Linked DNA regions of Homo sapiens. The protein of the gene in region 1 interacts with the protein of each later gene in a biochemical or structural test. Each region holds a gene or a part of one and is shown in the gene's direction. Other genes may lie near its edges. The genes, in order: PIAS2, SUMO3, PLAG1 and SNAI2.

Region 1 (7,941 bases):
GATCATGCCACTGCACTCTAGCCTGGGCGACAGAGTGAGACCCTGTCTCAAAAAAAAAAAAAAAAAGTGAGGAAAAATTTTTTTTTAATTCCTTGTTCAGTTTCCTTGATACTAGTTTTGGTAAAGTCTAAGACTAAGACAGTATTGGCAAAGTGTGTAGGAGTTAGGAAATGTGATATAAATAGATATATGCTTAGCAAAAGAAGTAAAGTGGCTTGGAAAACATCTGGGAGGCCTGAGCACTGTTATAGGGAGAGAGGAAGTAATCAGTGGGAAGGAAAAGAGAGATATTAAAATCAGTAAAGTCTAATGGGTTCAGAGACAGATGTGAAAGGATTAAGAAGACAGGTGCTTGGAACTAAACTCAAGGTTACATGGTTGGTCCAACCAGGTTGGAATGCTCTTTGCTAAAATTACTAGGATATATCATATGGTTCTTAATTATGTTTCTTAATGAAGTGCTTTTTTTTTTTTGTTATGTGTTTATCAGCTGTTTAGATTCAAAATCAGCTTAGCTGTTTAGATACAAAAAATTTACCATCTTTCACTTTATAAATTTACAGAGTACACTCATACACCTGATCTATCAGATCAGGTATCTCATCCTGAGATAGGTGTAGTCATTTTTCTTTTCCAGATTAGAAAAATTAAGTTGAGACTTTGCTAAAGTTACACAGCTAGTAAATGGAAAAGCTACTCCTGAGATTTTTGACTTCGTGTATTAAAATCTTATGACACTTTATGCCAGGCGCAGTAGCTCATGCCTGTAATCCCAGCACTTTGGGAGGCCAAGGCAGGTGGATCACGAGGTCAGGAGTTCAAGACTAGCCTGACCAAGACGGTGAAACCCCATCTCTACTAAAAGTACAAAAATTAGCTGGGCATGGTGGCGGGTGCCTGTAATCCCAGCTACTTGGGAGGCTGAGGCAGAGAATTGCTTAAATTCGGGGGGGCAGAGGTTGCAGTGAGCCGAGATCGTGCCACTGCACTCCAGACTGGGCAACAGAGCGAGACTCCGTCCCAAAAAGCAAAAACAGAAACAAAAAACAAACAAACAAAAAAACTTAGGACACTTTAATCACAGTACTTATAATGAATCTTCTAATTTGGAGCCATTTTAAGACGGTAGCCTAGTCAGGTAATTGCCTGGAGATTCAATCCATAAAGAGCACTAAAACATTTTACCATTGGAAATGTAATAAAGAAAAAGGATATATTTAATAGAATTCCTCTGGTAGAAGAGTTCAGCATGTGGCTGGCACTGGTACTTTGATATGTGGCCTTTTGTGAGTGATAAGATTACTGCACCTCCCTCCTTCTCCACTCCCCTTTAAGGGTATACCACATTACTATGTTATAAGGAAGTTGGATTCAAGTAAGTGCAGGGATTTCTTTTTAATGAGGATATATAAATCTAGACCAGAGCAGAAATGATCACAACAGTGAAGAGAAACATGCCCTTTCTACCCTTTACCACTCAGCCATTCCTTTGAACATATATTGAATGATTATTGGGGAGTATAGATTAGAAAAAATGCCAAATTAATAATCTGGTCTGGTGAGACAAAGTAGCACCCTATTTCAGAATTCTTTCTATTGCAACTAATAGAAATCTCAACTCAAACAATCTAAAACCTTACAAGAAAGGCATTGGCTCAAGAAAACTGGCCAGTACAGAGGCAGAGTGAGTATCAAAGTCAATGCTGAGATTTTGTGTGTGTGTGATTTTTCTGCTCACAAGAAGGGTTGGTTCTCAGGTTGGCTCTTCACTGTAGCAAAATGGCGAGTGTTCCACATGCCAGAAAGTCTTATCTCTAATCACTGAATAAATGTCCTAGGCTTCCCTCTGATTAGCCTACCTTAGGGCACGGGTCCACACTTGATCTACTTGGCAAAGCCTATAAATGCTCAGTACTAATCAGATTTATATGCCCAGTTGTGATCTAATACTGTGGCCAGAATGACATAACAGTCCTTAATGACTCAGGCCAGTCTAGGGCAGCACCTAGAACTCTTTGCAGTCAAACCTACCCAACCCATCCAGGAGCTGCTACACATTGAGGAAGGGGCAGAATGAATGCTGGGAAGCAACTACAAAGAACACTGCACGTAAGTTTCAGTGGGGCTTTGCTTTTCTTTTCTTACTGTTTTGTGTTTATGTTGGTCCTCTTTATGGGTGTAAGCTCCTCTGTGGCAGGGCTGTATTGTACTCTATTCGTCTATTCCCCGAAAACTCCTCCCACAGTGGCATTCACTTAAAGCCTACTAAACAATGTTAAATTCTACTGAGGTGTAAATCAAGGTCTACGGAGAATAAATCAAGAGTAAGAATAAGCCAAGCGAAGATCACAAAGTTAATGGTGGAGAGACAGATTTAGAACCTGGACATTGTTCATTCATTCCTTTATTCATTAAACAAATACAAGGCCAACTATTTGTTAGGCATTTATCAGCCATTATAGTCTAGTGGGTTTACAATTTTTTAACATAAAATTTTAAAATAATAATTTTTATTTTTTGAGACAAAGTCTCACTCTGTTGCCCAGGCTGGAGTGCAATGGTGCGATCGCAGCTCACTGCAACCTCCACCTCCTGGGTTCAAGCAATTTTCCTGTCTCAGCCTCACGAGTAGCTGGGATTACAGGCATGTGCCACCACACCCGGCTAATTTTTTTTTTTTTGAGATGGAGTTTCGCTTTTGTTGCCCAGGCTGGAGTGCAATGGCGCTATCTCCGCTCCCTGGAACCTCCGCCTCCAGGGTTCAAGCGATTCTCCTGCCTTAGTCTCCGGAGTAGCTGGGATTACAGGAATGCGCCACCACGCCTGGCTAATTTTGCATTTTTGGTGGAGACGGGGTTTCTCCATGTTGGTCAGGCTGGCCTCCAACTCCCAACCTCAGGTGATCCGCCCGCCTCTGCCTCCCAAAGTGCTGGAATTTAGAGCGTGGGCCACAGCTCCTGGCCTAATTTTTGTATTTTTAGTAGAGACAGGGTTTCACCATGTTGGCCTGGCTGGTCTGCAACTCCCGACCTCAAGTGATCCACCTGCCTCGGCTTCCTAAAGTGCTGGGATTACAGGCATGAGCCACTGCACCTGGCCAAAACAATATGTGTGTGTGTTGTGTATATATACACAACACACACACACACACACACACACATATATATATATACACGCACACACATATATATCAAATAAACAATTACACAAATACCTACATAATTACCATGGAGACATCTCAGGAAGAAAAAGTTCAGGGTCCTAGGAGAGGTCATAACAGGGGAATTTGAATTAAAATGTGGGATGTGGGTGAGGGATGGTCTTCCTGAGGAAGTGACACTTAAAGTGAAACCTGAAGGATGAACAGGAGTTAGGAACAAAGAAGAGAGTGGGAAATTATTCTTGGTTCAAGGATCAACATTTAGAAGCCTTAAAACTTGAGGGGAGGCCGGGTGCAGTGGCTCACGCCTGTAATCTCAGTACTTTGGGAGGCCGAGGCGGGCGGATCACCTGAGGTCCGGAGTTGGAGACCAGCCTGACCAACTTGGAGAAACCTCGTTTCTACCAAAAATACAATCGCAGCTACTCGGGAGGCGGAGGTAGGAGAATCGCTTGAACCCGGGAGGCAGACATTGCGGTGAGCCGAGATCGTGCCATTGCACTCCAGCCTGGGCAACAAGAGCAAAACTCCGTCTCAAAAAAACAAAACTTGCGGGGTGCGGGGGCAGGGGAGTGGAAGGAAGACCTGGAAGTGCAGTGCGGATGAAACGAGGGGTAGTGGGAAGAGGCGGTAGGTAGGAGGCTGATTAAACAGGGCCTTAAAAGTTACATTGTTTTAAAGACCTCTCGTGTGTGGGTTCCACCCAATTCTTCAAGGAAATTGAACCCTGGACACCGTCCAGCGATTTTTCTGGCCATCTTGACTCAGCATCTTCCTTCATCCTATATCAGCACATTACGGGGGGGCCATCAAGCTTCCTTCTATCTACTTACTCTGCCTTGGCGTTTGACTCCTTCCTAGCTATCAGATTTCCCCGACTTTTTAGCATGGCCCTTCTGAGCGCTCTTATTTCACTTCTCCCCGCCCCCAACCCCACCGCCTAACTCTCCCAACTCTGCAGTCCGTGACCTTCAGGTGCCCTTCAAGGTCAGAAAAACTCGGCAAGGTTGGTACTTGCAGGACATTAGCAATTCAAAGAGGTGTCACACAACCTCACCATTAGATGGGAACAATAGCTTACCCAACACCCATATTTAGATTATTCCGCCACAACTACTCTGGGGGATGGTTTTATTTGCGGCGGCTTTCTCCGTCCATAGGCACCGCGTGAAGGGCACCGTAAGAATCTTCCCGAATGCTCCTGTCACGCGTCCCGGCCGCCTCTTCTTCCTCCCCGCCACTTCCCGAGGCCAGGCCCGCGGATAACGCCTCAGTTGCGACCCAGCTCTAGGCAGTCCGCAGGGGCCTCCGCCGGGGAGGGAAGGCACGACCTGGGGCCGAGCGGGGCCAAGCCGCGGGGCAGCACGCCGGGGCAGGCGCGGGCGGGCGCTGTCGCCGCGCGGACTGAAGGCGCGGGCGGAAGGCGGTCGCGCGGGTGGGCAGGGGGCACCGCTAGGGGCGGGGCTTCGGCGCGTCGGAGGCGGAGCTCCCGCGCCGTTCACGTGACGGGCCCGGCTGTAGCGGCGGCGGCCGCGGCGTCTTAAGCGGCGCCCAGTGCAGGATGGTGCTGGAGGCGGCGGCGGCCGTGGTGGCGGCAGCGTCGTTGGCGGCAGCGGGAGTGGGTGCGGCGGCAGCGGCGGCGGCGCCCGCGGGTGGTATAAAATGGCGGATTTCGAAGAGTTGAGGGTAAGCGGGAGTGGAGAGCGGAGGCCGCGGGGGAGGGGATGGGAGAGGAGGTGGGGAAACCGCAACGTCGCCGGCCGCCGCCTGCTCGTGCCTCTGGGGCCGGTTGGCGGAGCCCTGAGCCCCGGCCCGCGGACGAACGGGCGCCGAGGGCGCGGGGGAGGGGAGCGGGCCGGCGGAGGGCACGCGGGCGGCGCGGGGGCGGCGGGCCTGGGCCGCGGCGAGCCGGCTCCTGAGTGCTGCCAGTGGTCCGCACACCTGGCGCGGGGGGTCGGGGCGCCCTCCAGGAGGGGCACATGGGGACCCGACATCCCGGTTCGCAGTGAGGGCCGATGTGGGAAGCAACGTTTGATCTTGCACCTTCACCGGGGTGTACGTGTCTGTGGCTATTCACAAGTCTGCATGCTACTCACTTGGTGGAGGACTGTTTTCTGAAAGCTGAAGTTGCGTTTAGGAATCTCTCCTCTTCTTATGGCTGATGCTACCGTTTAGTCAGGTCTGTCACGAGAAAAGGCCCCTTCTCCCACCCTTGCCTCCTAACATCTTCGAGGAACCTAATGTTTGGGGATCCCTGCCTTCAATAATCGGCCTTAAACCTCGATATTTTCTTAGTGTTTTAGTAAGAAATCTGCAAAGTCTATGTTGTGAGGTTTGTGCACCCCTTTTACTCTTGAGGAAAAATATTTTTTTCTTCTCAGTCTTAAAACAAGATCATAACTTTATTGTTGATACCCTTGTATAGCAGAGGTCTGGAATAGGGCTGTGATGGGGGTAGAACAGAAGAGACTTTTTCCCCCCAGACTGATAACCTTTAAAGTCCTAACTAAGTGTGACGAATGAGATGGATTTGTGTGTATCGCTGAATTACTGGCGACATAAATGAGATGTTTACGGACAGAAACCCTGATTTTTTTTTTTTTTAAATGTATCAAGGTAGAGATGAGTGTAAACTTGAAATTACATTTACTGCAACTCGTTTGTGTAACACTTATGATATTAGGATTTCTTTTTCAAATAAGGAAGAGGAATCCGGTAAAAGGTTCAGTTTTGTATATTTATTGTTTTCCGCAAGAGATGGGATGGGGGAAGGATGTTGGCTGGTTACCTGCTTAGTGGACGTGAGCAAAAGAACGTATCCTCTGCTCTAAACGGAGATTGTTGGAGTTTGCACAGTGCCTGCCATATTCCCTCCTGCTGTTTCAAAAATAATTATTAAGTTCCCAGTAAACACATATTAATACATGTTATGCCCCATACTAGTTTATGCAGAGAACCATAAGTGTAGGTAAAGGGTGTTCATACTTGATAAGTTTAAGGGTTTTAGTGGCTCAGAGCCCCAGCTGTAGAGCTTTTAACACCTGTGGAGCTTTTCAAACAACGAACCCTGAACCTCACCTCTGTAAATTCATGCGTTAGATTTAGGATGGGTTGAGAAGACTGAACTCTGAAGTTATATTTATTTTTACCTGCCATTTTTAATTTTTGTGTAGTAACAGATGTATACAAGTTTTCTAAGTTCTTTTTTTTTTTTTTGTTAATGAAAACTTTCCAGGATTTTTATTAGACTCTTGTGAATGTTGTTGGCCAAAGCTTAATGTAAAGCGAAGAATTTACTCGCTCTTATAGAGCAGAGTAAAAGCAGTCAGTGCTCAGATTGGAGTGCAACCAGCAACTGGAAAGTGATAGAAACCAAAGAAGCTTTTTTTTCTCTTCCTTTCTGCCTTCCTCTCTGTTTTGGTTTGTGGATCAGCTTCATCCTCTTTTCCTGTAAATCAGCTGTCTTTACTTCTTGCATTTTTAGAAGATGGCCCCTCTCCCACAATTCATATGACGTGCCCAACAGAGACTAACTGGGGAGAATTTTCAGAGGAGTGAGGGGTGCAGGCTGGGCACATGCAGTAAGCATCATCTGCTTTTCTTTGCCTTAACTGCTCTGTGCAGACCCATGTTACCCTACACTTGAAGATGAACTGTACCCCGCCCTTACATCCCATTACAGACAGTAATGATGATGATGGTATATACCCATTTTAATATAGTGGTTATTCCATGCCTGGTTCTGGTCTAAGCATTTTTTCTATACTTATTTAATTCTCACAATTTTTTCAAGAAATTGAAGCACAGAGAGGTTAACCTGACCTAAATCACACAGCTTGAGATTTGAAAAGCTAAGATTTTTAATCTTAGACATGTAGCTTTTAGAGTCTGGGCTTTTCAGAGCCCGGGCTACACTACTTTGTTCTGGTACCTTGGGGTCTAGGTGGAGCTTCTAGCCATCATCCTGCGATTGCTCCTAAATTAAATGATTGGTAACATCCTTCTTGTGTGACATTATAATAAAGGAAGAAAAACAGACTAAAAAACGGAATAGAAAGAAAGAAAAGGGGAAGAAATAATCTTGGATTCTCAAAATGATGGTCCTTGGATCAGAATATATTGTGGTGGTCAGAGTGATGCTCAAGTAAATTATAGGACCAGGAAAAATTTTGGGCATTAGTTTGTTGGCTAACTTCTTGGCAGTAGAGAAATTGGTCAGCCGATCTGGATGCCACATATTTGGCTGCTGATATGCCACAGAGAGGATTTCCATTACCCTTCAAGGCTACTCATTTTGGACAAGTATAACCAGAGCAGTTCATATCCTGGCTAGTGCTGCATCTATACTGGAGATAGGGAATTTTGGGAAAGGTAATCCTCAGTGTGGTTTGGTGACCCTGGTGCCTTTGCTTTTCAGACTTGTGTGTCGGGGGTGGAGTTGGGGGGGGGAGGGTTGGTTATTCGATTAGGCAACTGTTAAGGGGGTCGCCTGACTATTTCAGTTTTGGAGACTGCTGCGTGAGCCAGTACCAGAGATCTTGGCTGGTCATAGCAGAATATGGCAGCTCTATACCTTGTTGCCTTTCAGTCCGGGTGACCAGAATACCAGCCCACCTCTCTTCCAGTTCTTCTGGGAGAGAGAATCTGATTGGCTGAGTTTAGGTCTCTACTTCTGTTCTAATCATCCATAGCCGGGGGCTTAGAGTCAAAGCACACAAACCTGATCAGCAGATTATCCTGATGGATTGAAGGAAAGGAAGTGGGGAAGTTCTCTGAAAAGG
Region 2 (7,487 bases), on another chromosome or scaffold:
CAGTTGTCCCTCTCCCAGCCAGGGAAGGAAAGGAGAAGTGGAGAGAACAGGCGTGTGATGTACAGTGCTTCCTGAGGGCAGCAGCTCAGCATGGGGTGAAAGGGTACCAGGACGCCCCAGACTTGACTTTCAGAGTGAGCCGGAGGGCCCTGCCTCATTGCTTCACTCACAAACGACTTTATCCCAGCAGTGCAGGCCGGCAGAGGGGTGCCCCACTTTTCGGCTCAGACTGAGCTGCCCCGAAGTTGGCTCCCAGTCTCTTGACATCAGCTTTTTGCCTCAACTCAAAATGCATTTTCAGGCAACAAGACACCCCGATTGTGCCATTGTTGAGTAGCTTCAAGTATGGCATGAATTAAAAAATAAAATAGTACCACCTACTGCCGCTCAGATAGGACAGTTTGAAACCAGAAAGTACTCGGAGGTGGCTTCCCTCACATTTGCTGATGTCAGGGCAGCGAGAAGGAGCCTGGCCGCCTGCTGTGGGGAGTGGCCGTCCTCAGTTGGATTCCCGAAATCACCACTTGAATGTCCCATAGGGTTCCTCTGAGTCACAAATGTTTTCTTCTGTTTTTGGTTTCTTTTACTAGTGCTGTATAGCTGCATGACTTTTGGATATGTGTTTTTACTGGTTTCATAAGAATTTTTTAAAAAAGAGATGGGGTCTTGCTCTGTTGCCCAGACTGGTCTCAAACTCCTGGGCTTACGCCATCCTCCCACGTCAACTCCCAAAGTACTGGGATAACAGGTGTGAGCCACTGTGCCCAGCCCACAAGAATAACTTTAAAATAAAGATGGATTTTCTCTTATTTTTCCCTAGACTTTGTTTTTTTCTTTGAATTAACAATGTCAGAGGACCCTAGGCTTGCATTGTTTTACACATGGATGCTTAACAAGTGGAAGTTAAAAATAAATTCTGTGTAAAAATAAAACCATCACGAGTGACTCTGAATTGCTGGAGAATTTTAAGAATTAGGTTGGTTTTGATGACTTTAAAAAGCCAACAATTACCTAAAGACTTGCCCATTCAAGTCGCGGTTATTTTGAGACACAGTTTTGAGGCCAGTCTCTGGTGTCTTCTGCAGGAGGGTGTGAAGACAGAGAATGACCACATCAACCTGAAGGTGGCCGGGCAGGACGGCTCCGTGGTGCAGTTCAAGATCAAGAGGCACACGCCGCTGAGCAAGCTGATGAAGGCCTACTGCGAGAGGCAGGTGCGGCACCTTGCTCCCCCGCAGAGCCTCCCCGTGTGCGCACTGGTCCTGTGCGTTCCAGGCATCCCCAGAGCACGAGCGTCTCGGGGCTGGACCCAGATGCAGCTGCCCGAGGTGCCCTCTTCGTGGATGGGCAGGCGGGGGCTTGTGCTGTAAAATTAGTCCAGGCTGGGCTTGTCCCCCATGGCCTTTTATAAGGTGGAGGGACCTAGAGGCTCGGAGAAGTGTGGTGGGTTTTTCTTCCTGACAGGGCGGCTGCCCGGGGTGCTGTGTTCTCCATGGGGTACTAACATCTGTGAAGTCTGTGATGCTGAAGGCTCTTGGGGGCCCTGCTCAGGTCTGGCCATTCTGGGGCTGCAGGTGGCGTGTGCCCCACGCCGCTGTCACCCTGTCCTCGCGTATGAGCTGGCCTGACCCTGGAGAGACACTGCCCTCATGTGCGGTGTGGTTTTCCATTTTGTTAGGAAAGGCAAGAAAGCGCGTGATTCTTTCCCCTTCTTCCCCAGTTTCAGGATAATGAGCTGCCCCACTGGCAGTGCCCAGCTGGGTGGATGCCTTCTGGCTGCTGTTTGTGACGTGGTGTGTGTGTGTCTGTTGTTCTTGGTAACGCTGTGGCGGACTCACCCTGGGCCAGGGGGTCCCTCTCTAGGCCACTTTTATGGGCTTTGCCCACCAGCTGCTGCCTGGTGTGTTGGGGGCCCGGCCCTGCAGCCAGGCGCCCTTCCCCAGGGAGCCCTGCTTGCCTGAGTGGGACCTAGAGGCTGCTTTTCTTCAGCCGCTTTGAAAATACAGCAACTCGTTGCCCTTTTATTTTACTCTTTTGCCTGTGGATTTTCAGTTAGATTTCCTCCTCTTTCCCTCCCACTTTGGATACCCTGCTCATAGGGGCAGTCACTGGCGACTGCCTTGCATTCTTTATTGGCAAGCAGCCCCTGACTTCCTTTCTTTGTGTTTGCTGAGGGCAGATCTTATTTTCACCTGCGAAAGGTGAGACTGAGCTTCCAGACACGCAGGTCCCGGTCTTCCCAGCAGAGTGAGTGGCCTGGCGCCGTGTAGGCCCCGTGATCCAGCCTCTGCCTGATGCTGGGCCCTGGCCCTTGCTGGAGTTTGTACTGCCTGGGCTCGTGGCCACTGTGTGTGTGACTTCCCGGGTGCCCATGTTCTCCTCTGCGCTGCGGGATGGCAGGCGTGTGGGGCCGTGTACATGTGGGGGGGGCTCTGCCCTTCCCCCTGCTCTCCCGGAGCTCCCCTCCTGCCCCACCTGCACTGCTGCTTGTGAGGCTGGCTGCTCAGCCGTGGTCCAGGGCCTCCTGTTCAAATCCTTCTAGAAACTTGGGTTCTCTCTTGGGTGTTTCCTGGATTAGTCCTCCTCCCTTTTGTGTTTTGTGGTGGAGCACATCCTCCAGGGTCTTGTCAGAACGGGCACAGAAGGGCAGCGTCTTTGAGACACTGCATGGCTGAACGTGACTTTTGCTTTTATAAACCTTCACACTTCAGTATGTGGCTGCACGTAATATTCTCGGTTGAAACTTTTTTTTCTTTTTTATTTCAGAGGTCAGCCATGAGAATAGCTCCCAATGTTAAAAGTGAAAAGTTCACCAGGCATGGTGGCTTATGCCTGTAATCCCAGCACTTTGGGAGGCTGATGTGGGAGGATCACTTGAGGTCAGGAATTCAAGACTTGAGGTCAGGAGTTCAGTGCCAAGCCTGGGCAACACAGGGAGACCCTGTCTCTACGAAACATTAAAAAAATTAGCCAGGTGTGGTGGTGCAAGCCTATAGTCCCAGCTACTCAGGAGGCTGAGGTGGGAGGATTGTTTGAGCCCAGGAGGTGGAGGCTGCAGGGAGCTGAGGTCATATCACTGCTCCAGCCTGGGTGACAGAGCAAGACCCTGTCTCAAAAAAAAAAAAAAAAAAAAAAAGGTGAGAAGTTCAGTGGATTCTGATTCTCTGTGCTTTGTTTGTAACTTGGTTTTTCCCTGGAAGTATCTGGGACCATATTCTGGCATTCAGTGTTTCCTTATGTGCCTCAGAGGTGGGTGATTTTCTCACTCATGCTGCTGGGCACTTTATGGGTCTGGACGTTTATTTTTATTCAGGAAATATGCCTTATGTTAGTTCTCTGATAATTTGTATCCTTCTCCAGACTCTGTTCCCTCTTTTTGGAGTTCCTGTTCCTCCTGCTGCTCATTGTCCTAGATATTTTAAATTTGATAATTTTTCTCCCATTTTGCTTTGGGCTTTATTGTTGCATTTGGGCTTCTTTCCGGGAGGTCATTTCAACTTTATCTTTCCACTTCCTGTGGACATTCTCATCTCTGTCATGATTTTTAATTTCCAAAAGTTCTTTTTTCTTTCTGTTCTTTGAGTGTTCTTTTTTTCTCAGTAGCAACTTATTTTTTTTGAGACAGGGTCTCACTCTGTCCCCCAAGCTGGAGCGCAGTGGTGTGATCATGGTTCACTGCAGCCTTGAGCCCTGGGGCTCAAGTGATCCTCCCACCTCAGCCTCCCGAGTAGGTGGGACTCCAGGTACACGCCACCACGCCTGGCTCATTTTTTTATTTTGTGGAGATGGGGTCTCCTTATGTGGTCCAGGCTGGTCTGGAATTCCTGGGCTTAAGTGATCCTTCTGCCTCGGTCTCCCAAAGTGCTGGGATTACAGGTGTGAGCCACCGCACCCATCCTCAGTAGCAATTGATTGTTTTCTGAAGGTAGTAGTATTTTTTACTTCCCATAGAATTTGAATCGTGAGTGTAGGTGTGTGTGGTGTGTATGTCCGTGTCTTTGTGCATGTGTGTGTATGTGTGGGTGTGTGCCTGTGTGTGTATGTGTGGGTGTGTGCCTGTGTGTATATGTGGGTGTGTGCATGTGTGTGTATGTGGGTGTGTGCATGTGTGCATTCGTGTGTGTGTATGTGTGGGTGTGTGCGTGTGTGTATGTGGGTGTGTGCGTGTGTGCATATGTGGGTGTGTGCATGTGTGGGTGTGTGCATGGGTGTGTGCATGGGTGTGCATGTGTGGGTGTGTGCATGTGTGTGGGTGTGGGCATGTGTGGGTGTGGGCATGTGTGTGCCTGTGTTGGGAGTGTTCTCCTGCCTCCTTCCTGTCCGTTCTCCTCTGCGCTCCTCCCCTCCTCTCTAGGCTGCTGCACAGTGAGCCTTTCCCTGACTGCTCTCACGCAGGCTGACTTCTGTGCAAGCATGGAGCACCGAGAAGCTGCTGAAAAGCTGTGTACATGGATGGCTGTGCTGCCAGGGCTGTGCATCCACATGGGGTGATCTGTCTGGATTGCAGGTTCTGGAGGCGCCCAGATGCTACAGTTTGAGAGTTGAGTCCTCCAGGCTCCGGCCAGCCTCCTGGAGGCGCATCTGGAGGGGAGAGGGGACTTGGCGCACAGTGTTGAGGGCACGCGCTTTCGTGGGCCTGTTTCCGCCCTGCGCCTGGAGCTCCGCACCCACCTTCTCAGAAAGCACATCTCATGTGTGCTGCCGTGGGAGGCACAGGGTTGTGGGGGTCCTGCCTGAGGGGTCTGCATGTGAACTTCCAGGCAGCTGTTCAGAATCAGCTGCCTGCCACAGCTCTGCCTCACAGGTTGGGGCGTGCCCAGTCCCTCCGCCCTAGGATCCTGGTCCAGTGTCCATCAGACCACCAGTGTCCACGCCTCAGTAGCCTCTGGCTCAGCCCAGCATTGACATATCTGCCCATCCCCACTCCCGTTTTCTTTGTCCTTCCTGTTTGTGCCTTTTTCATTTACTTCATTTCAGTGGGGTTTCAGGAGGGAGCAGAGATGCACGTTTTAACCCCGTCTGTCCTGTTTCAGTTAAATCAAAACTGCTCGTTGAGGAAATGTTTCTGCCCCTGACCACATTTCTCCATTCCCTCAGGACGCAGAAAGGCTGCGTGCTCTCCTTCCTGCTGCCCTCCTCAAGGCCAAAGTCATGGTGGTAACTGCTCCCCGGCCTCATGCAGCCTTCTTATCTGTCCCTCATTGGCACACAACCTGTTCCTTGCTGAGAACTTTGTAAAGGGGGGAAGTAGTGGTGCCAGCATTGTAGAAGTTCTACTCGGCTTCTGGAAAGATGGGAGGGATGACCCAGGACAGGTCAGGGCACCAGGACAGAGAAGATTCAGTGTTTGAATTGACCATTCCACACGGCCACTGCACTGAGAAACTTTGATTGAAAAGCTAGCCACTGGAAGGTTAGTATTCACCTGGCGGCTCATTTCCCCTCCCCTGGCACATCACCAATGCTAGTCCAGCTTTTCTCCTGCTCCTCAGAGACCTCCTGGCTGACAGCTGTCTGAGCTAGCGTCACTGTGACGTGTTACGCTTCCTCACCTGGGTTTCGTATGTAAAGAAAGGGTGGATTTTAGAGGTACATGAGTTTGGATGTTAGTCTAGGACGTCTCTTGTGTTCTGGTGTTTGAATGTAAGTCGGCTTTCCTTCTGCCATGGACCACTTACCTATCTGCTTTGAAACTGAACTGCCACTGGTTTGGCTTTAAGAAGTTCCCAGTATGCAATGGTGTAACAAAACCTGGGTTGAAAATGAGCCGTTTTAGCTCATCAGAGAGAAGATGGTAGAAGAGTGGGTTCTGAAAGCAGTGGTGTCAGGCACCGCGTGAAAGAGATTGTAGGCCCACTGGTGAGTTTTTAATACTGAGCTGGATCATAAATCTGCATATCAGAATGCTGATACTTGGATTAAAATATTTGGTTTTTGAATTAAGCCGTATCTGGAAATGTTTAATGGCCACTGCTTTTCCTCTCCAGGGCTTGTCAGTGAGACTAATGGCCACTGCTTTTCCTTTCCAGGGCTTGCCAGTGAGACTAATGGCCACTGCTTTTCCTTTCCAGGGCTTGTCAATGAGGCAGATCAGATTCAGGTTCGACGGGCAGCCAATCAATGAAACTGACACTCCAGCACAGGTACGGAGCTGGCTTCGCGTGGTTCCAGGGCGACTTCCGATTTGTGCGGGGTAACTGCCATTTGGGATACGCTTATTTGAGAATTGTAGGTGGGAGCTCATACAGAATGCCTTAATGATATTGATTATTAGATTATTTATTTTTCACATTTTAAATTTAAATTTTCAAATGAGAAAACTGCTTTGCAGACATCATTCTTGCTGTTTGGAGATGGAGCCAAGTGCTGGGCCCGTCCTCACTGTAAGGGAAGCGGGGGTGCAAGGACCACTCAGCGGCCCCTTCCCACTCATTGTCTGGACGCTTGCTGTTGTAGCCCGTGTGCAGCTTAGGGGCCAGCTGGATTCTTGTGCCCTTTAAGCATCTTGCACAAGTGACGTGGGTGGGCAGAATGTGCCATAACCCCTGATTATCAGTCTGCACAGCTCGTTTCTCTCAGGCACATGCAGACATGAATGAGATTTCATCTATCACGTTGCAGGGCATCATACTGTCATGGAAAGAGCTTTGGACCTGGAAACAGACTTTTTTTTTTGAGACGGAGTCTCGCTTTGTTGCCCAGGCTAGAATGCAGTGGCGCAGTCTCAGCTCACTGTGCAAGCTCTGCCTCCTGAGTTCACGCCATTCTCCTGCCTCAGCCTCCCAAGTAGCTGGGACTATAGGTGCCCACCACCACTCCCGGCTAATTTTTTTGTATTTTTAGTAGAGACGGGGTTTCACCATGTTAGCCAGGATGGTCTCGATCTCCTGACCTTGTGATCTGCCCACCTCAGCCCCCCAAAGTGCTGGGATTAAAGGCATGAGCCAACGCGCCCGGCCGAAACAGAGTTTTTTTTTAAACTTGGTTCAAGTTGCAGCTCTTGTCATTTGTCAGCTGATGGCCCCGTGACCAAGCATCACTTCATCTTGTGGAGTCTCAGTTTTGTCTGTCCATAAATGGAACCAATACCTGCTTTTTCTCCCTTTCAATGTTGTGAGAATCCACTGGAATGTTTTATGTGGAAATATTTTTGCAAAACATTTAAGATTTTAAATATTTACTATTCAGTATTTAATAAATATTGAAAACATCTTTGCAACAAGTATCCATTTGTACCTACTTGAGGAAACCTACACACCGCTGAGGCAGTGGCAGCTCTGGGAGTGTTCACCAGGGAGAAGCTGCTGAGAGCAGCTGAGCAGGGAGGGCCTCGTGGAGTCTCTGGGGCTTGACTGGGGGTCAGGGGGCTGGCTGTGGACAGGTGGACCGAGAGGCAGAGGGAGCCCTGCCTGGGGGCTCTCCCTCCAGCCCATAGTGTCGGTGGCAGGGTGAGGGTGGCCGACAGCCCTGATGGGACTCCTTTCCAT
Region 3 (7,860 bases), on another chromosome or scaffold:
TCACTTTGGCTTCAATGTTTGATCATAATATTGGTTTCAAGATTCCAAGTAAATCACTAATAACTGGTCTACAACAAGACAACCTAAATTAACACCATTCATCTCAATGCATTTTTGGCTACCATTTACTCCATTATACAAATACACTATTATATAAGCAATTTTAATAGATATTACTTCAAAACCGAAGTCAACAACACAAGCTATAAATTCAAAGGAAAGTAGGTGCCACATGGGGATTAAATTTAAGCTGTGTGAACTGGAAGTAGATTGAATAACAAACTTAAAAGTGAAAGGTATGATTCTGTGAGGTCACCTAAAGCAGGGGTCCCCAACCCCCAGGCCACAAAGTGGTACTGGTCTTCGGTCTGTTAGGAACCCGGCCAGATAGCAGGAGATGAGCAATGGGCAAGTGAGCCTTACCGCCTGAGCTCCCCTTCCTGTCACATCAGTGGCAGCATTAGATTCTCATCTAATGCTATTAGATCCCTATTGTGGGATCTAATATCACGAACCCTATTGTGAACTGCGTGCATGTGAGGGATCTAGGCTGCAAGCTCCTTAGGAGAATCTAATGCCTTTTGACGCCCGCCCCCTTCCCCATCCGTGGAAAAATTGTCTTCCACAAAACCGGTCCTTGGTGCCCAAAAGGTTGGGGAACACAGATCTAAAGGAAAGCTTTAGCTATATGGGTAGACAGTTTGCAACACATATCTAAGAAACATGTTCTACGTAAACAGAACAAAGCTGAATTTCTGTGCCAAATATTTAATGAATGTATATATTTGGAAAATGCATATAACTAAAGAGTATAATTTTCATGGGACCAGTATGATAACTACATTATTCAAACGTAGCAAAGCCACAAGTAAGTATCGCAAATCATACCAAATAAATGCCAATAAAAGCTTACTCTTAAAACATTTTGTTTATCAGATACCTTTGTGAAAACCTTTAAGCTTTAAATAGGCTAATTATATTATCAGCCCATTACTCTCAGCCAGGTTGTCAAGGACATGGTGATATTATTGCTAGTGAAACAATAAATGTCAGTGACAGTTTAAAAATATCATACCTTCCAGTTTTCCATGTTTGGACTAAATATTCTCAGTGTTACATTTTCCTGTCTAGTTTTACAGTGACAACCAAATGCTTGCATATTATACAAATAAGGAAAACTAAAGAAAAGATGAATGTTTGTTAGAGAAATTATAAACATCTAAAAATGCTCTAGTTAAATAGGATATGCTGGCCAACAATATTTTTTCTAGAGAAATAACTTTATTCAACAACTGCAGAAAACAAAGGCCCACAAAACTAGAGCAGCCTGTTTTTCCAACTTAACACTCATGAAAATTAAAGCAAACCATCCTACCGACAAACAAGGATTTATGTCAGGATCTCTCAGCCTCTGTGTTACCGAGGGCATTCTAACAGTCTTCTTACTGAGGGTAGACAGAAAAAAAATAATTATACAGTAGTTGACAGAAAATAAATCAATACATCTCAATAGCACTAAAAGTACCTGAAATTTTGATTTTGGCATAATGATCACTTAGTGAGGAACTTCATGTATTCTCTGTACTTTGTGAATAAAAACTTGAACGTGTTTTTCCTTTGTATTGCCATGCCTCAACACAAAGGCCATATATTGGATTGAAATGCATCTACTGGCTGGGTGCGGTGTCTCACGCCTGTAATCCCAGCACTTTGGGAGGCTGGAGCGAGAGGGCTGCTTAAGCTCAGCAGTTCGAGATCAACCTAGGCGACACAGAGAAACCCCATTTCTACCAAAAATACAAAAATTAGCCTGGTGTCGTGCCGTGTGCCTGTGGTCCCAGCTACTTGGAAGGCTAAGTAAGGTGGGATAGCCCAGGAAGTCAAGGCTGCAGAGAGCTGTGATTGCACCAGTGCACTCCAGCCTGGGTGACAGAGAGAGACCCTGTCTCAAAAAAACGAAAAAGAAAGATAGTTCAATTATAATTCAGTTGTTGTTTACTCTTATTCTTAAGTTTAAGCAACCAAATGTACTAATAAAACCTAAGAATACAGTATGCATTCCAACAATTACTTCCTTATTTTACACCAATTAGCGTACAAAATAAGAATGAAATTCGGTACAGTCCAACTTTAGCAAAAACATTCATCAACTGAAGTACCAGAGTGCCTATTTTATGGCCAATAGTAGGGTAGCCAACACACCAAAAAGCCAAGTTATTGCTTAGTTGACATTATGAAAAGCTATACTGTTTCAAAAACAAAAGAGTTGAAATTTTACTTCCAGTGGCATCTTCTTTTTAACTATTTCCCTGCGTTGCAGGAAGTCAGGGAATGCTACTGTGCTTCAGTAATCTTCCAATTCAATTCCTAGAGATACAGCTTTGCAAAAGTTTAGGAGGCCGAGTCGGGCGGATCACGAGGTCAGGAGTTCAAGACCAGCCTGGCCAACATGGTGAAACCCCCTGTCTACTAAAAATACAAAAATTAGCTGAGCGTGGTGGCACGCGCCTGTAATCCCAACTACTCAGGAGGCTGAGGCAAGAGAATCGCCTGAACTTGGGAAGCAGAGGTTGCAGTGAGCCGAGATCGCGCCACTGCACTCCAGCCCAAGCGACAGCAGTGGAAGACGCCGTCTCAAAAAAAAAAAAAAGAGACACCCAGCCCAGTTCTACTATGGGAAAGATCAGGACGTCCAGGCCAAAGGAGACCAGCCTTTGCAAAAAAAAGAATGGAAAAGGGTTTGGTTATTCTGGTGTCCATTAAGTAATCACTGAATAATAATTTTATGATTTTCATTGAACAATACAAGAAAATAACCAGCCAACAGTAACATCTTGGCAAAAAAGAAATCAAGATGCTGTTCAATTATATCTACAAGCTTCTTCCTCTCCTGAAGACAATTTTTTTCCACACTTCCCTTCTTCCTAAGAGAGATGATGATAGTAAATAAATTCACAGCTTTCTTTTTTACACCTATCCTATGATGTGAGAACACAGAACTCTTCATACACCTTAGATTTAATAATCTCAACAAGGATCAGACAACCTTGCATTAAATTTAAGTTTCGTGCCTTACATGAAAGTATCCTACTCTATATTTTATTGTCAGTCAGAAATTCTTCAAAAATAATACCTAGGTAACATCACATATACCCAGTTCGAGTTTGGTGCATGAGTTTCTTCACATTTCATTTCCTTTTCCTTCCGGATTCTAAATACAAGGCACTCTAAGTTTGGATTTCCGAAAGTCCCCTCCTTTGCATGAGTTCCTCGTGTATTAACTGGAATTGAAGAGGAAATGTCAATTTACAGTGAGGAGCGGGGCTGAATTACAACATCGAGTGCTCCGCTAAAGGGGCCTTGTCTATTACTTTTTGAATGTACTAAATAAATGTTACAAGGCTCTACTACTTGCAGAGCATAACCAGAAAGAAAAACCAAGCAAAGATATGAAGGAGGGGCCACAAAACCATAGCACATTCAGGGGATAACTCTAAAATCCACTCCAAAGGGCAAACTGCTTAATAAAGCAGTTCCTGATTTCCCATCCAGTGGTTCACGTCCCCCCTCTCTAAGTAGCTTTGAAAGGGCAGGGGGAAGGAAACGTTTCTGAACACGTTCATGCCCACACGCCCCGTGGTCGGAGCCCAGGCAGGGTCCGCGGCTCTGCTAAACCCGGAAGCTGCACACGCCGTGCCGTTAACCCACTGCCAGGTGCAAAGTGGAAGGGGGCAAGAAGTCAAGGGTGGCCTGCCGGAGGTGGGCGCGCAGGGCAAGGAGAAACGAAGGGCGAACCCGAGGCCTCGCCGCCTTCCGCGGTGTAGCCCGTCAGCATCTGATCCTGGACGGCGCGCACAGGTGAACACACCTTGCTGTGCCGAGACCATGCCGAGAGAGACAAGGGGCGAGGAAAACGCAGGGAACTGGGGGTGGGGCCGGTAACTGCGCTTCAGAGGCTACACAGGAGAGTGGAAGAAGAGCTGGGGTTGCCCGGACTAGGCAGAGGTCATCTTCCTCGCCCCCGGAGCGAACAGACCCGTGTGGCGGGAGGAAGAGCAACGGGAAGAGGTCCGCGCTGCGGCGAAGCCTGGCGGGAGCGCCTCCGCGCCGCAGAAGTGCATTCGGGCCCCGCTACGGCCCAAGGGCACCCCTCTCTCCCCGCTTTTCTGCGGCCGCTTCGGAGGTAGGGCGGGGGAACCACTCACCTCCGGCCTCCGCTTCGCCAGCACCCAGGCCGTCTCCAGCTCCAAACACGTCAATGGCTCACGCAGCAGGACCTTAAGTAGCGCGCATCCCAACTTGCTGCCCCCGCTCCCCGGCGGCAGCCCGCCCAATCGGCGCGCGCCGCCGCCAGACTGACAGCCGCGCGGGGCCCTGGGCCGCAGGGGCGGTCGGGCCTCGCCCCGCCCCCGCCTGGCGAAAGGAGGGCCGAGGCGGGAGGAGTGGGCGGGGCGGTGAGCGCGACCCCGCCCCCTCTTCCCCCGCCCCACCGCGCCCCCCAGCCGCGGCCCGTCTCTTAACACTTCGGCTTGACGGGCGGCGTCGCGGCCCAATGGGCGGGCCAACTCCCGCCAGCGGCGGCTCCGAGTGGCCAGCTCTCGGGCGGAGCGCGCGCGGGGGGCGGGCGCAGCGGCGGGCGGGGTTTGGGGGCGGGCCGACGGGAGGCGGGGGCGGTGGCCGAACAGGCAGGGGGAGGCAGCGGTGGGCGCGACGTCGGCGGCGGCGGCGGCGGCGGCGGCGGCAGCTGCAAGTTGGGCTGCAGGGGCAGCGCATACACTACAATGGCTGCTGGAAAGAGGCGTAAGGAAACAATTTCCAGGCCCGCCGCGTCCAGCCCGAAATATGAGAAAAAAATTATTAGAAATTCCGCGGGCGGTGTAGAGGCGGCGGACGGGCCGGAGGGAGGATGTTAAAGCCCCGCGGTGAGTTCTCCGGGGGTCCGGGGCGGCGGCGAGGCGTTTAGCGGGAGAAATATCAGGGTTATTTAAATTATGGGACTAGCCGAGGGGGCAGAGGAGCAGCGGCGGCGGCAGGAGGAGGAAAAGTTTGTGCTACTCTCAGCCCCTGCTCAGGACCCCAGAGAGAAAAATAATAATAAAAAATAAAATAAAATAATTACGCGGGGCTGCGAGGACTCCCGAAGTCGCTTCTGACAGGGCAGGGGGCGATGCGGCTGGGGACCCGAAGGTGAGGTCGGTGGGAAAAAAAAAAAAACCTTTATTCAGGGTCTGGAAAGTTTGAAAAGTTTTCCTCCTCCTCCTCCTCCTCCTCCTCTCTGGTGCTGTGAATATTGTGACAGCGGCAGCGGCAGCAGCGAGAGCGGAAGACATTAGAGACCCGAAAAATAAGGGAAAAATTAATATAAATTCAGTTTTGAGAGTAAACTCTCCGCATTTTCCACCAAAACATCCCGGGGGAAGGTCGCTTCCCAAAGGGCCTGGCGGAAACCCGCAGTCGGCAATATTTGGGGGGCACTTTGAGTGACTTGGGGTAACTTTGCCCCTTTTTCAAAAGAGGTTTTTCTTTTCTGGAGAAATGAATTTGTTTTTGCCCTTTCCTCAGGTGGGCAAGCCGGGGTCGGGGTGCGGGGTCTGCAGGGAGGTGTGAGCCCGGGGTGTGTGGCTGCGAGGGGGGGTAGGGGGAGGGGGTGCTAAATGAAAGCAGGAGATCGGCACAGAGCAGGGACAGCTTGTTGTCAGTATCATAAACAACCAAAATGGAGGGAGAACTCAGGCATATAACCAAATAAAAATTTTTAAAAAATCGCAAAAAATCCCTAAAAATCCGGGATGCTCCCCCTTTTCTCGCTAAAGGTAAAAGTATGTACCGCCTTTCCCCTGAAGTCCATTTTGACTTTGCAGGGACCAAGGAGTTAATATTTATTTATTTTTTAAAACTTTCGAAGGGCAAAAGCCTTTTATAACTCAACCGACAATGAGAAAACGTGAAAATCCGATGCAAGAGAAGCAGGGGGAGCGAGGGGGGAGGTGGTAGTGCAGAAACTGCTAAACTTATTGGTAATGTGGACTGATCTCAGATAAGATAAACACTATATTTGCTATTTTATAACTCTCTTTTAATGATCTTTGCGGGGTTTTTTTGGGTGGAAAAAAAAGTGATGCCATTTTCTTAATAGAGTTAATATGTGTGATTGGAAGAATGAACCTTTCCGGCTTTAGATTGCATTTTCGTCGCATTTATGCTTCAGGTTTTGTTAGTGGCTCCCTCCTTTCTTTAAACTGGGCTCTGCAGAGGAGGGATAGAGAGGTGATGGTGCTCAGAGAGGCTGGAGTGCAAGGCTGGAGTACCTTTTGGGGAGGGATGTGGAGTTGCTTGGTTTCCCCCTTCCTGACATGTTTGCTTCACCTGTTCATCCTTCCTAAAGAATGTTAAGCTGAGGTTTTCTGGTTTTATGTGTATAAAAGGATGATGTCTCTTGCATCACATTGATGTTAATGGGAAAGTGCTGCTGATGTTGGTTCCACGTGGGATATGGGACAGAGCAGGGCATTTTAAAGGGACAGCTTCTCTTTTCTTATGGTTTTCATCACCTACACAGAATCACTGTCTGAGGACCAAAAGCAGAGGTGCTGGGAGGGTGTGGTGATGGAAGAGCCTTCCCTTTCTGTTACTCCAGTGCACCCACCCATAGGAGTGATGGAGGGACAGGAGGGATAAACAGCCTCAACCGAAGATGGATATGTGTATAGTTTGTATCCAAACTGTTCCTTTGTGTAACAAGCCCTCCCAGGAACTTTTCATGTTACATTGCTTTGCTTTGGAAGCTGATTTTGGAAGGAATTGTGGAAAAATGGAAATAGTTTAAGGTGTGTGGTGTAATGGTATAGCATTATTGAACAGTTATGAATTCTGTGCAGTGAGATCAAAGAGCTGTGTATGCCCATAATGTGATTTTACAGCCATTTTGTAAAAACTGTAAAATACCTTAATATTCAATTTGGCTTAAGGTACATTGAGGACTTCTGGTTGAAAATTACAGAGTGGTGAAGATTCTTTAAAATTGTAAGCAGTAGGCATTTCTTTAGGGGGAAGGAAAGCACACACACCAACACCATGGAAAAGTTTACACATCCATTTTTAAAGTCCATCCTATGCATGGGTTGTAACTTTGCGCCTTTGAAATGAAAAGATTTTTAAAATCCTGAGCCCTGTGAGTTTTCATTTTCTAAGTTGAATTTATTTGTGTTATTTAACAGAAAGTGTTTACTGACCATAAACTACTATCGGCTCTTATGTTTTAGATTTCCACGATATTTTCAAAATTTAAAATGTGTAAATTGTTAGCTGTACTATAATGGGGATTAAGGTTAATCTTCAGTAGAAATTACTTGTGTTCCATTTTCCACAGGTATATGGAGTTTCTGAAATAAATCCTTATTTCCTCTTGTTTTTATTATTTATAGACATGGATTAAAATTAGAGCTGAATTTTTAGACTTCTTATATAGAATGTTTTTTCTTGCCCTACTGTATAAACAAGTTATTATTTTTGTAGTCTATTGTATGTTAACTTGTGTTTACAACTGAGTTCTTCCAACTTTCTGTAAATACCTCTATACAACATCACATCAGTAACGTGTTTGAGTACATCATCTTGTGGTTTCTGATTTTGGAAGCAATTACAACTTTCTAAGAACTCATTAAAAGATTAATCTCATCACCCACAGTTAAATCAAAATTGATTGGAAAAGGATTAAGCTATCAATAGAGAAGGGAAACTCCTCCATGCCCAATGATCTTCTGTCCAGAGGTTTCAGAATGCCATTAAGACTTACAAAGCCTTTTCATTTTATCTTACGTTTTCATTGTATTTTGGCTCAAGACAGTTACATTGACTATA
Region 4 (7,474 bases), on another chromosome or scaffold:
AAGGTACACACAGAACACTGAAGAGATGAATATCTCTTACTTTTCATGATGCACTTAACCATATTCTATCCACCCAAAGGGAAATGAGATCATACAAACATAACTAGGAATAAGATTCTGAACACAAGTGACTTGGCAGAAAGCAGATTTCATTAAAATGCTGTTCCCAAGTTAAGGGTTTTCTGTTTGGAGTGATCTTAAATATTTACTGATCATATGTGATGGTACTTATTGAGCTATTGGCATTAGCACTAACTCCAGACAGACGCAGATGCCTAGTGGCTATTGGCCTGCTGAACATGACACTGGGAACACGCAGGAAATAATGGAAACTCCTAAACAGCAGAGGGACATCCTGACACCATTTTTGGCTATTATTTTCCCAACATTCAGACATGTGAGTGCTCACACAAAGGTGTGTTCATGCTCATATTTGGCCCTGTTGACATCACCAAGCACATATACTTACATATGTGGAGTGCATAGGCGAGTGCCATCCATTCCCTTTGAGAAAAGAGGTTCTCCTTATTGTGGAGCTCAGAATATATAAGCAGAATCCCATGCCCGCTCTGACAATTTTCCAAAAGGAAATTTAGGAATATTTCTTCCTAAATCCTTTTACATACAGATATGTGTATGTTAAAAACCCACAAAATGGCATCACACCCTTGTCATTCAAACTTCAAAGTTATATTTAATAAATGCTTTGTTTCTATGTAAATAGATTTTTAAAATTACTAATGTATTATAATATTCTCCAGATAGCACAGCCAAACTCATGATATTTCATCACTTCATATTTTTCAAGGGATATGAATATGCATATGAATTGAGGAGATATGAACCCCCTCCAGAGTGATCATACCACACACCAAACTTAGAAAGAGATGCCTTTCATTTTAGGAGATAGGACACAGCATAAAATGGGATTTTTCAGCCTATGCCACACTCTGGTTTCTTCTGGTGCTAGATTTACTACTCCATTTCCTAAACATGGTAGTCAATACTTGCACTGCTTTTTACACACCTAAATACCTAAATGTGTACAAATCTCCACGCAAAGTAAAGAAACCCAAGGTGCGTTCCCAAACCTCACGGATCTAATTTATTCCCCTACTTGGCAGGGCAAGAATGTGTCTTTCATGAAGAAAACTGGCTCCGGGAGAAACCCCACCCATCCAGGGAGCCTGTGGGGAAGGCTGGCCCAGATCTTTAACTTACAAAGTTTTCCACAAGTTATCTTGGTCAGCTTCTTCAGAAAACAGAGAAAATGAGAGCCTGTCAGGTACGTCACATCAAATCACATCATGGCAATTAAGGAATTAGATTATACGGGTGTCTGGGGTGCCAGGCAACCCGCACAACCCATGCCATGGAGTCTCGCCAGTGTGGCTCAAGCCTAGGAAGGATTATTTTTTAAGCCTCACTATGGCCTCCAGAGTTCCTTTTTTCTCCCTACACTACATTAAACTCTCAAGAGCCTAAGAGCAGAGCTTGTGCCTTCCTTTTGTCTTACCCGTGCCCACTGGCTTCACCCTGGCTGGGCTGTGTCCACGTGGCTCTAAGAACAAGCACCATTTATTTAATTGTTATGAAATAAATTAGGCTGATAAACCCAATCAGCCTAATTATGGAGCACCAATTTCTCACCAACCTAGGACTGAATCCTTGGATTAGCAAACCCACTTGGGTTTGCTTGTTCCATTTTTCCCCCTCAGTCATTGATTTGACTTCTATTGGATTCCAGAATGAAAGCTTTAAAATCTGGTGCAGTTGCCTCCACAAAGATTTCTGTCCCTGGGCAAGAGAAAGTCTTTTTGTCAACGACCAAAGCCAACCCCTCCAGATGAGCCCTCTGGCTGGCAGAAGGAAAGGAAACCTCTGTCTTGTCTTAGCAGAGTCCCAGCAGCTGGCCTTTGGGTGTGGCCTTGACTTCCCGGCTTGCGTTTTTACCACATGGTGCTGGCGCCACATGCCCTCCGCTGTGTCTGAGCAGAGCACCTGTTTCGTCTGACTCACGCCATCAGCGCGCAGACTCGCCCTGCTCTGACAGCGGCCCAGACCTCACACGGGCATACGTGTTACTCGCTAGCACGCGGATCTGTGTAATGACATGCCCCATGCACAGACCCGAGCCCCATCCTCTCCTCACAGTAGGTGTGGCCGCACGTCCTGACGCCGATCTGTGCAGTGCACCCTCGGATACCTGCTGATGGGGCTGGGCTGGATTATGCCTCTGTGATCCAAATGTAAGCTTTTTTCATGCATAGTGAATTATTATTAAACGTTGTAAATGGATTTTTGAATACACATTTTAGTAGATGATCTTGTGTTATAACTACCAGCAAATAAATACCAAAACATTGTCTAACACTCTTCTTTGTTGTGAATAGACTGTGTAGAGTGAAACAAGGAAATAATAGCCATGGCGATATGTGTTTTCTCAACTGTGCTATATCTGTAACAAAAATGTGTGTTTTGTGGGAAATGGAGTGAAAAGCAAGGAGGACTCCTGCTCTCATAAACCCAGGTGCCTACATCCGAACAAACCCTCACATAGAGTAGCAAGCTTAGAAAACTGCCTCTGGCTTTTACTCCAGGTTCCAGTTTGTGTGTGGAGAAATCGAATATGTATTCATATTTTCCTCTCTCCTGCAAGTACAGTTCCATTAGCATAAGGATTCCTTTGAATTATTTTCTCTGTTTGACATTTAAATTAGTGACTGTTGGAAGAAATAAGAATAATCATTGAAATTAGCTTAGGAAATCTGTGAGTGCCCCACCTCACCCTCCAAACACACATACACTCTTGTTTTCTCATTCCAAGATTAAGAAGTTATGCAACCTGACAATGCACTTTTCTCTGACAAGTCTTGACATCACCACTGTTATTTTCTTTTTCACTTTTTTCCTCCAGCACCTGTTAGAAACAAGAGTAGGGTGATCTTCATGTGAATTTGTTCTTTCCTTATTCTTTTAGCAAAAGATAGGGATAAAAGTCTGCAATGGACAGAGATGCTTTAAAATATGCTTGAAATTTTATATTTAAAATAAACCACCTGAAAGTATTTTTAGATTGAAGACCATACACAAAATAAAGGTGTTTTTGCAGTTACTAGACTGGGTTCTTAAAACTTTAATCAATCTATATTCATAATAATATCCTTCAATTTCTTTTTTAGCATTATACAGGAAACTGGTAGATACTGAGATGGATTTTAATGGCTTTATACTGATGAAAATAGCACCACATAAAAGCAGGGGAATATTAGAAATAAAAATAATTGTCTCTAAAGACCCATACAACCCTTTTTCCCATAAAAAAAAAGATGCACTGTAATACATGAAAAGATAAGATCTCTTGTCAAAAGTGTGAGAGAATGTCCGGTGGTTCCAAATGACAGTTACCTCTTGCCCCCCTTCTCTGCCAGAGTTCCTTTTTATCTTTGCAATCTTCCAGTTCTTCCGATCAGCCTGCCTTTAGAGGGCTACAAAGCATTTCTTTCAAGCCACCATAGCTAACACGGTGACATGAGTACTTAATTTGCACGCGGCCGCGCTGCCCCTGGCTTCGCGGAAGCCCTGAGTAGCGCAGCGCCCTCGCCGCACGCAAGGCTGCAGTCCCGCTCCAGGCCAGAGTCCCAGGAGAGCGTCCTCCGCGCTCACAGGCGCCTTTGTCTTCCCGCTTCCCCCTTCCTTTTTCAAAAGCCAAGAGGTAATTATTTGGTCTTTGTGCAAGGCAAACCTCTCCAGATGCCACTTCCAAATATAGGCTCTCATTAACACCAGAGGCTGGCCTGGTGTGGTGCAGGGCGGCCCTTCCTTCTCCTGGCGGACACTGTGTCCCCGCGCGCTGGCGCTGCACCACATCTGGAAGCCAGGCGGGCAGGGCAGAGACCCCGGCTCCTGCGCCCCTCCTAGCTCCCAGAGAGCGTGGATCGCGGGCGGGGCTCACCGAGCGAGGTTACCTCTCTTGAAAATACTTAAACACTTTTTTTCCTCTCCACTGAAATCTCAAAAAACAGCCCATTTTGAACCAGAATAATTTAGTCTGACAACAGATTCTTCCTCTGTTCACAGCTGTCCCAGAGGGAGGAGCTGAAATCTGAACCTCTCAGCTGTGATTGGATCTTTCTTGCAAAAGAGAGGAAAAAAAAACCCTCCCAGCCAAAACGGGCTCAGTTCGTAAAGGAGCCGGGTGACTTCAGAGGCGCCGGCCCGTCCGTCTGCCGCACCTGAGCACGGCCCCTGCCCGAGCCTGGCCCGCCGCGATGCTGTAGGGACCGCCGTGTCCTCCCGCCGGACCGTTATCCGCGCCGGGCGCCCGCCAGACCCGCTGGCAAGATGCCGCGCTCCTTCCTGGTCAAGAAGCATTTCAACGCCTCCAAAAAGCCAAACTACAGCGAACTGGACACACATACAGGTAAAAAGAGAAAAATATATCTAGAACTACGTATCTAGAGCTTTGCAAATATGAATCTACGTATTACCCTTCAAATACCATTACAAAAGAGCCAAAGATTCAACTGTTTTCCTTTTTAACAGTGTCCTGAAAGGGAGCTTACATTCTTTTGATCATTTAGGGTTCGTTTTAATTCAAAACTTTTAAAATTCTTGACTAACAAGGAACATTTCATTCAAATCTCGCAGCTTCGTTTGCTAAAGCCTGTGTATACATGCATAATGAGTATGTGAAAGATGAGCAACATAAGGATTGAATTACTGCGTTTTTCATGCACTAAGTCTCCTTTCCTTTAGAAGGCGGCTTGATGCAGGCATATCTTTGTACTCACGGTCGTAATACACCTAAATAGCCCATACGTAACATGGAAAACAACTTTTCTGTATGTTTAAAAATAATGTTGAGGCTCTCCTTCCTCAATGGGGACGGCGAAGGCACTGGCTTGGCTGCACTGTCTGACTTCAGAGCACCTATAGCTCCGTGCAGCTGTCAGCCTATGTGTGCATTAAGTACAGTAACTCCGTAGGTGCCAGGGTGGAAATGAAACATTTTACCAGTGTGTATGCCCTCCTAAATGGGTCTATCTTCTTCCTAAGAAAATCACGTGTGTGTTGCTAAATATCTTTCCAGTGTGTGTATACTTGCGTGTGGATTTATTTTTAATTATTTTTGCCTTAATCTTCTCTCCCTCCCTTTTCTTTCCCAGTGATTATTTCCCCGTATCTCTATGAGAGTTACTCCATGCCTGTCATACCACAACCAGAGATCCTCAGCTCAGGAGCATACAGCCCCATCACTGTGTGGACTACCGCTGCTCCATTCCACGCCCAGCTACCCAATGGCCTCTCTCCTCTTTCCGGATACTCCTCATCTTTGGGGCGAGTGAGTCCCCCTCCTCCATCTGACACCTCCTCCAAGGACCACAGTGGCTCAGAAAGCCCCATTAGTGATGAAGAGGAAAGACTACAGTCCAAGCTTTCAGACCCCCATGCCATTGAAGCTGAAAAGTTTCAGTGCAATTTATGCAATAAGACCTATTCAACTTTTTCTGGGCTGGCCAAACATAAGCAGCTGCACTGCGATGCCCAGTCTAGAAAATCTTTCAGCTGTAAATACTGTGACAAGGAATATGTGAGCCTGGGCGCCCTGAAGATGCATATTCGGACCCACACATTACCTTGTGTTTGCAAGATCTGCGGCAAGGCGTTTTCCAGACCCTGGTTGCTTCAAGGACACATTAGAACTCACACGGGTAAGAGAAAAACCATAGGCAGGAATGTTACTCTGAGATACAATGAAGCCCTGGGCTGGCTGTTGGATTTGCATGAAGTTGTGACATAGTGCTTTTAATGATGGACAGTCATTGATAGCTACTTCCTGACTACTCAAAAAGTTGTTAGGGCACAAAGTGCTCCATTTCTTGCTAACAACCTCTGCTCCAGGGACTGCAAACAGCATGTAGACTTTGGAAAGTAGATTCAGAAGGTTTGGTCTCAAAGATCAGTTAGAAAATCAGGAAAGATGTGCTTGAATGTGTGTTCTGTGAAACTGCCCCCAGTAATCAGCAAATACAAATGTTGCTATCTTAATCAATTGATTTGGTTAATAGATGAAGGCTTTTCCTACAGTTTTCTGTTAGTTACATTCTTGCTCTGATATTTGTCACCCGTGGGTGACTTGGATAGTTGAAACTAAATTTACTTTGCCTCTCTTGCTTTGTTTGGGGATTTTTTGCTCCTTAATTTCTTATTCGTATCACAGAATTATTCTGCAGGGTATCATGGCACTTAGACCACCTTAATCATAGTACAGAAAGAGGGAAAAGGGGAAATATTGGGAAATGTTGGGAGGTGCTCAACATTAGCTGCATCTGCTAAAGCAGAAAGCTTTAAGAAGTGAAAGTCCAAGAACTACGTAAATTATTTCTGTATGATTGGCAGCAGTAATAATATTCGTGTATGATTTTTAAATGCAATATTCAAGTTTATCTTAAAAATTCAGGTATTTTTAAAAGTGTCTATTATGAGGGATTTTAATCAGGTTTTGCTGCTTCTCATTATTTAAGCAAAATGTGATTGACTTTTGTTAACATGATTTTACTTTATGTTTCCTCTAAAAACACTGACTGTCTTTCTTTTTTTCTCCCACTCCACCCCCAGGGGAGAAGCCTTTTTCTTGCCCTCACTGCAACAGAGCATTTGCAGACAGGTCAAATCTGAGGGCTCATCTGCAGACCCATTCTGATGTAAAGAAATACCAGTGCAAAAACTGCTCCAAAACCTTCTCCAGAATGTCTCTCCTGCACAAACATGAGGAATCTGGCTGCTGTGTAGCACACTGAGTGACGCAATCAATGTTTACTCGAACAGAATGCATTTCTTCACTCCGAAGCCAAATGACAAATAAAGTCCAAAGGCATTTTCTCCTGTGCTGACCAACCAAATAATATGTATAGACACACACACATATGCACACACACACACACACACCCACAGAGAGAGAGCTGCAAGAGCATGGAATTCATGTGTTTAAAGATAATCCTTTCCATGTGAAGTTTAAAATTACTATATATTTGCTGATGGCTAGATTGAGAGAATAAAAGACAGTAACCTTTCTCTTCAAAGATAAAATGAAAAGCACATTGCATCTTTTCTTCCTAAAAAAATGCAAAGATTTACATTGCTGCCAAATCATTTCAACTGAAAAGAACAGTATTGCTTTGTAATAGAGTCTGTAATAGGATTTCCCATAGGAAGAGATCTGCCAGACGCGAACTCAGGTGCCTTAAAAAGTATTCCAAGTTTACTCCATTACATGTCGGTTGTCTGGTTGCCATTGTTGAACTAAAGCCTTTTTTTGATTACCTGTAGTGCTTTAAAGTATATTTTTAAAAGGGAGGAAAAAAATAACAAGAACAAAACACAGGAGAATGTATTAAAAGTATTTTTGTTTTGTTTTGTTTTTGCCAATTAACAGTATGTGCCTTGGGGGAGGAGGGAAAGATTAGCTTTG

Evidence for each region.
Region 2: the proteins of PIAS2 (region 1) and SUMO3 form a complex in vitro, tested with the Homo sapiens proteins (2 studies listed by BioGRID, with this or other methods).
Region 3: the proteins of PIAS2 (region 1) and PLAG1 form a complex in vitro, tested with the Homo sapiens proteins (one study listed by BioGRID).
Region 4: the proteins of PIAS2 (region 1) and SNAI2 form a complex in vitro, tested with the Homo sapiens proteins (one study listed by BioGRID).

The regions. Positions count from the first base shown.
Region 1 is NC_000018.10:46,914,227-46,922,167, reverse strand, and holds the start of PIAS2 (E3 SUMO-protein ligase PIAS2), read left to right. Parts: upstream 1-4,660; 5' UTR 4,661-4,822; coding exon 4,823-4,846; intron 4,847-7,941. UniProt on the Homo sapiens protein: Functions as an E3-type small ubiquitin-like modifier (SUMO) ligase, stabilizing the interaction between UBE2I and the substrate, and as a SUMO-tethering factor.
Region 2 is NC_000021.9:44,807,703-44,815,189, reverse strand, and holds part of SUMO3 (small ubiquitin-related modifier 3 isoform 1 precursor), read left to right. Parts: intron 1-1,085; coding exon 1,086-1,214; coding exon of another isoform or gene 1,215-1,328; intron 1,329-6,071; coding exon 6,072-6,143; intron 6,144-7,487. UniProt on the Homo sapiens protein: Ubiquitin-like protein which can be covalently attached to target lysines either as a monomer or as a lysine-linked polymer. Does not seem to be involved in protein degradation and may function as an antagonist of ubiquitin in the degradation process.
Region 3 is NC_000008.11:56,208,183-56,216,042, reverse strand, and holds the start of PLAG1 (zinc finger protein PLAG1), read left to right. Parts: upstream 1-4,769; 5' UTR 4,770-4,922; intron 4,923-7,860. Other genes in the region: CHCHD7 (coiled-coil-helix-coiled-coil-helix domain-containing protein 7), read right to left, coding at 1,376-1,445, 3,134-3,192. UniProt on the Homo sapiens protein: Transcription factor whose activation results in up-regulation of target genes, such as IGFII, leading to uncontrolled cell proliferation: when overexpressed in cultured cells, higher proliferation rate and transformation are observed.
Region 4 is NC_000008.11:48,918,136-48,925,609, reverse strand, and holds the start of SNAI2 (zinc finger protein SNAI2), read left to right. Parts: upstream 1-4,180; 5' UTR 4,181-4,344; coding exon 4,345-4,423; intron 4,424-5,168; coding exon 5,169-5,714; intron 5,715-6,621; coding exon 6,622-6,803; 3' UTR 6,804-7,474. UniProt on the Homo sapiens protein: Transcriptional repressor that modulates both activator-dependent and basal transcription. Involved in the generation and migration of neural crest cells.